Regions from separate parts of the Homo sapiens genome. Here region 1 is linked to region 2. The links come from fine-mapping of genetic effects on gene expression. Tissue or cell type: lung. Region 2 holds a variant in brackets; the other region holds the start of a gene. All regions are shown on one strand. Distances are from middle to middle.

Region 1 (2,647 bases), 43 kb after region 2:
TCCAGCACAGTGTCCGGCACAGGATGGCACTGGGTGACCAAGCCGGAGGTGAGCGCGGTGATGGTGGCGATGAAGGTGATGGTGGCGAGGGCGGCCGCACTAGGGGTCCCCAGGCTACCCACACTCAAAGTCCCGCTCGCTGTAGCTGCGGCTGGGCTTCTCGGGGTCCCAGGCCGGGGGCTTGCTGATGAGGTCCCCAAACCTGCTCACAGCCAAGGTCTTGCCCAAGTCATCGTCCTCCTCCTCCACGTCTGGACTTAGAGGGGGCTCCTCCAAGGGCACCCGGACCTGCAGGCCCAGACGGCCTCTGCTAAGGACCCCTGACCCATGAAGGCCCCACACCCACCCCAACTCCAAGCCCTAGTTGGGGGAGCTCAGCAGGCTCTCACACCATCGGGCCCCCTCCCCTTGCTCCCAGGCCTGTGTCAGCATCCCAGAAACCACCCTCTCTGGGCTCCCAGAGCTTGTAAAGAGAGAGGGCTACGGATCTGGAAAATATCAAAAACCCCCCTCTTTCTCCGTAACCCCCAGCCCAGCTCATCCCTGGATCTGGGGGGTCCCGGGGTCGGCCAGAGGACTCCTCTGCCCACCCTAAGGTCCCTCCCCTCTCCTCCCCCATCTCTCCCCCGCCCCCGCGCGCGCCGATCACCTGGGGTAGGGGGGAGGCGCCCCCGGGCGGCGGGATCACTCCGTTGGCCATGGCCAGGTAGGCGGCTGGGGACGCTCTCGCTCACTAGGGGACCCGAGACCCAGGTGAGAAGGAGGGGCCACTGAGGGGGCCTAGCGGGGAGCCCTGGGGGAGGAGGGCGGGGTCAGGTTCCTTGCGCTGGCGCCCCCCACCCGGGAGCCGGATGCACGCTCCCGGCCCAAGCGCCCCTCCGAGGCCCAGCCACGCCCGGGACAGCCCGGGTCCCCCGCCCTGCCCGGCGTGCCCCGCCCCGCGGTACCTCGGGGCTCCGGAGCCTGCGAGGCCCAGGCGGGCCGCCGCGCCCCATGTCCCCCGCGCTCTCTCCCGAGCGCAGCCGCGACTGCCGTCCGGCCTCTCGCAGCGCAGAGCCGGGCTGGCCGGGCGGACGCAGGCGCCGGAGCCCGCAGCCCGCGGCTCCACCTCCTCGCGCTCCGCTCCGCACCTCCGCCGCCGCCGCCGCCGCCGCCGCCGCCGCCGGGCCGCACAATGGGAGCGGGCGGGCCGTGACTCACCCCGCCCCGGCCGGCGCGGCCCCCACGCGCGGGCCCCGCAGCACCCCACCTGCCCGTGCGCCCCTTCTCCAGGCGCCCCACGCATCGCTGGGGGCTGGGGCGCGGCCCGATATTCCCACAATCCCCCAGATTCGCTCCCCAACCCTGCTTTTAGCCTCCCCTCCCCTCCAGAGCCCAGGAAGCCACCCCCTCCGCAGACACAGGCCCCTCCAGTCTTGGGAACGGAGCTCACAGACCCCTGGAAGCACCCACCACCTCCCCTTTCATTTCTACCACAGCCTTGCCTCTCAAAGGCCTGGCTTCTGTCGCCTGGCACCACCCAACGTTTGACCTTGACACAGTACCTCCCCTCCTCCCGCCTCAGCTTCCCCAGCTGTAGCGAGAGGGGCCTGCAATAGGGGTGTTCCAAAGTTCTATGCAACTCTAAGACTGTGTGGCTCCGTTTCCACATTTCCTCTCCCTTCTCCCCCTATCCCTGAGGTCACATCTCATTTTCCAAGGGCAAAAGGTCTTTCGAAGGAGCCACTGGACCCCAATCGGCCCCTATCCCGAGATCAATGAAACTGGACTTCTACACAGTGCGATGCCATAACAGCCCTGTGACCTTGGTACTTCACCGCGTCTGACCCCTGGCCTCATCTAGATCTCAGCTCAACCCAAGGAAAGATTTTCTGTGTGCATAGCCTTCCAAGGGGAAGGGAGCTAGGATCTGTTGGACGCCCACATTGTCTTGTGTGTGCTCACAGTCCTGTGCTAGGTTGGCCCTCTCCAGACTGGCTGCCTCGTCTCAGGCATAATAATAAGAGGAGCTGTTATGATTCCCATTTGGTCGGCAGAGGACAGTGGAGACTCAGGGAGGCTCGTTACCTGCCATGGTCACAGCTGGAAAGCAGGCTGCCGACAGGTTTGGGCATCATTATCCATGTATTGAAGTGACTCTCCAAGCCACAAACAAAATTTTTAACTGAAAGAGATGAACTGTCCTCCTAAGTCTCACATGGTGAGTCCCAAGGTGGGAATTCCTAGGGTGGGAATCAGCTATGCCTAGGCAGAGCACAGCTGTGCCCCAAAACTCAGAATGGGAGACCCAGCTGTTGGGAGTTGAGTAGTGTCCCCCAAAATTTATACGTTGAAGTCCTAACCCCTGGTACATCAGAGTGTGCCCTTATTTGGCAATAACGTTCTTGCAGATGTTAAGATAAGGGTGGACTCATCCATTATGACTGGTGTTCCAGTGAAAAGGGGAAATTGGCCAGGTGCGGTGGCTCACACCTGTAATCCCAGCACTTTGGGAGGCCAAGGCGGGTGGATCACGTGAGATCAGGAGTTCGAGACCAGCCTGGCCAACATGGTAAAACCCTGTCTCTACTAAGAATTAGCTGGGCGTGGTGGCACACGCCTGTAATCCCAGCTACTCAGGAGGCTGAGGCAGGAGAATTGCTTGAAC
Region 2 (2,851 bases):
TTGAATATCAAATTGGTTTTTTAAAAATTGTATTTCAGTAGCATTAGGGGTACAAGTGGTTTTGGATTACATGGGTGAATCATATTCAAGTTGTTTTAAATGAGAGCAGGACAAGAATTAGAATCTTGCAATCCATGGCAGTTCTTTCTCCACAACACTCAGTAGATACCTTGATATATGCATACTCGTTTGTTTGATATGAAACATATGAGGGGAAGATAGGAGAGGAATCTCTCATTCTGATTCAGTTGCCTGAAAATCCTTGCCTTAGCTCATTCCTTTGAGCCGAAGGTATTGAAGCCCTCCTTTAAAATGCAAATATCATCTAGGAAGAGTGACACATAAATCATTGTCTTTCATTAGTCCCACAGACCAGAGCACTTTATCAATCACTAATTTTTCTCCATGCTACTCAAGAGAACGCTAACGTGGAACGTGTCTAGACTCACTGAGTGGGGTGGGGTTGCAGCTGGCAGGACACCTGTGTTCTGGCCTCTGTGTTTTCACTCTCGAAACAAGGAGGGATGGATTTGATGATCTTTGAAATCCTGAGGCTCAATGCCCCCCACTATAGCCTGAATGTGTCCTTGCAAAATTCATAGGTTGAAAGCTAATCAACGATGTGATGTGTTAAGACATGGGGCCTGTTTAGGGGGTGATTAAGCTCTCATGGGTGGGATTAGTGGCCTTATAAAAGAGGTATAAGGAAGCTGTTCACCCCTTCTGTTGATCTCAGATCTCTCAACCTCCGGAACTGTGAAAAATAAATTTCTGTTGTTTATAGATTACGCATCCCAAAGAATCTTGTCATAGCAACCCAAGTGGATGAAGAGACCCCCACATCCATCGGAGGGTGAACTCTAACTCATACATGTGTCTTGGGGATGCCGGCACAATAAAGTCTCGCCTCGTCCCATCTCTGTTTGGCATTTGAATCCAAATCTCTTTGTTCTGTTAGGCAACTGTTTGGGGCTTTTTATTCATTTGACAGGTGGATCTTTTTGAAGTTCTCATTTAAAATAATTTGATATTCAAGCTGTATGTGTGTGGTTGAAAGTCATAAAATTATTCATCTGAAAGACCTCTCCTTTTCTCTCAGATACCAACTGAAGTTTGCAGCAGTTCCCCCGAGCAAAGCTCGCTGCCTAGAAAGCTCTTTTTCAGCAACGCTCTGCCATCATCACTAAATTGAGTTATTCCAACAGCCTTTGATGCTCTGTTTTTTTTCCTAAGTGTGCATATGAAAGCTGAACAGCAACATAATTTAATTCTTCAAGATTTACTTTTTAATCACCAGGGTGATTCTTGTGGGGTACAGAGAGTTGACCCCGTTTTCTCAAGTTGAAATTGATTTAGGTCAAACAATTCTTGGAATTTGAATTAGATATTTTTCTCCTTATCGGCATGAACTTCAAGCTTCATTTTCCAACAGCTGGAAACATCTGTGCTACC[C/T]ATGAATTACAGACGATTTGAGAAAACTAAATGTGGGCAAAGAAGATATTCACAACTCACAGAATTCTATCGGCAGAATTCTTCATAATGAGCTGAATTGGTGTTGAAGTACAATTGTGTTAGGTGTCTGAGTTCCTTTTATGAAAGAAAAATGAGACAATTACCAAGGACTAAGAATGCAATCAAAATAATACAACCATTTTACTGTTGAATAAGAAATCTTTCTATAAACACTATGGCATATTATTCCAGAATAAAAATATTTACCAGGAGGGGATTCTACTGAGAATTGTACCATGGAAAGTTAAGAGGCTTCTTCCCCCTAACTCAAATGTGCACCCACAGCATTATTGTCTGATTATGTAGTCAATGAACAAGGAACAAATATGTCTATCTAGAATAAAGCACCCTGTTTACATCAAGGTATTTCTTCACACAGGGATTGAATTTGAATACATAAATATTTCCATATGATTTGTTAATTACCTTTAGTAATAAATGTACTTAGATCCTCCCAATGCAAAAAGAATCTCTGAACAGTCAACTGATTAAAGAAAAAAAGCAGGGGATAGATTAGCTTGGAAATCAAAGAGGTAAGACAAAGCATCTTGGGTGAGCAACCGATAACTCCACTCCTCAGCTGCTTGCAGACTCATACCTTCATTTATTTGACCATCTGGGCACTCAATGAATTAAAGTCCACAGCTGTCCAGCCCTCCTCTCATACTCCCAGTTTAGGATGTTTTGGGAAGACAGGGAAGGGCTAGGGGTGGATCCCCAGGCCTGAGGCCCGTGAGGATGTCAATTTCAGGGAAGTTCTAGGGATTCCCGCTAGACTAGGGTTTCATGAGAGCTTTGATCTCCCCACTAAGCCAACAAAAAACATCTGCAGCAGGACAGAGAAGACTGAGACACCCTTATATCAATTCAGTAAATACTTCCTGAGCACTGATTATGCTTAACTCTATGGGGACTCCAGATCAAGGATTCAGGCATGAGGTGACACAAGTCGAGTTCCAACACATATCAGGCACTTGATATTTACTGAATGAAGGGTTGGTTGAAGAAGAGGGCAGTGTGAATGGAGAACAGAAAATATTTAGTAATATTAGTAATCGCACAGAAAATATTTGAGGACTTGATAACTGTCTGGGTGGAGAAAAGAAAGAGAAGGGAAATTGAACTGTGGCCCCAAAGGTTTCTCACCCAGGGACCAATGTAACAGGAATACCAAAGGTGCAAATAGGGACATTGGAGGAAAGAAGGACATTCTGGTGGAGACCGCAGCCTACCTGTCCTCAGAGAGGACTTGTTCAGAGCTGGCACAAACCGCTCCAGGATGGTTTCCCTTGGAGAGCTGAAATTGGAGGTCCAAGATACCGAACTGTAGAAACAGATT

Direction of the effects. Alleles are on the strand shown, and positions count from the first base shown. SD is a standard deviation of normalised expression in the study named.
For the expression in lung of the gene that starts at base 1,063 in region 1, allele T in region 2 goes with a lower level than allele C (small effect, 0.32 SD a copy in GTEx).

Evidence for each region. PIP is the estimated chance that this variant, and not a neighbour inherited with it, causes the effect.
Region 1: SLC4A3 starts here. The variant in region 2 is fine-mapped to the expression of SLC4A3 in lung (TOPMed, PIP above 0.99).

Annotation. Positions count from the first base shown.
Region 1 is chr2:219,626,046-219,628,692 of GRCh38, reverse strand. It overlaps SLC4A3 (solute carrier family 4 member 3), which reads right to left and starts at 1,063. Exons shown (of 23, transcript NM_005070.4): 1 at 948-1,063; 2 at 650-793; 3 at 123-288. The coding sequence starts at 700. LOC124908064 (a long non-coding RNA gene) reads left to right here and starts at 683. Exons shown (of 2, transcript XR_007088701.1): 1 at 683-753. RefSeq lists an enhancer at 1-560.
Region 2 is chr2:219,669,028-219,671,878 of GRCh38, reverse strand. No RefSeq gene overlaps it. Among named protein-coding and RNA genes, the nearest start is that of SLC4A3, 43 kb to the right of the region's middle. The variant C/T (reference allele first, on the strand shown) is at 1,453.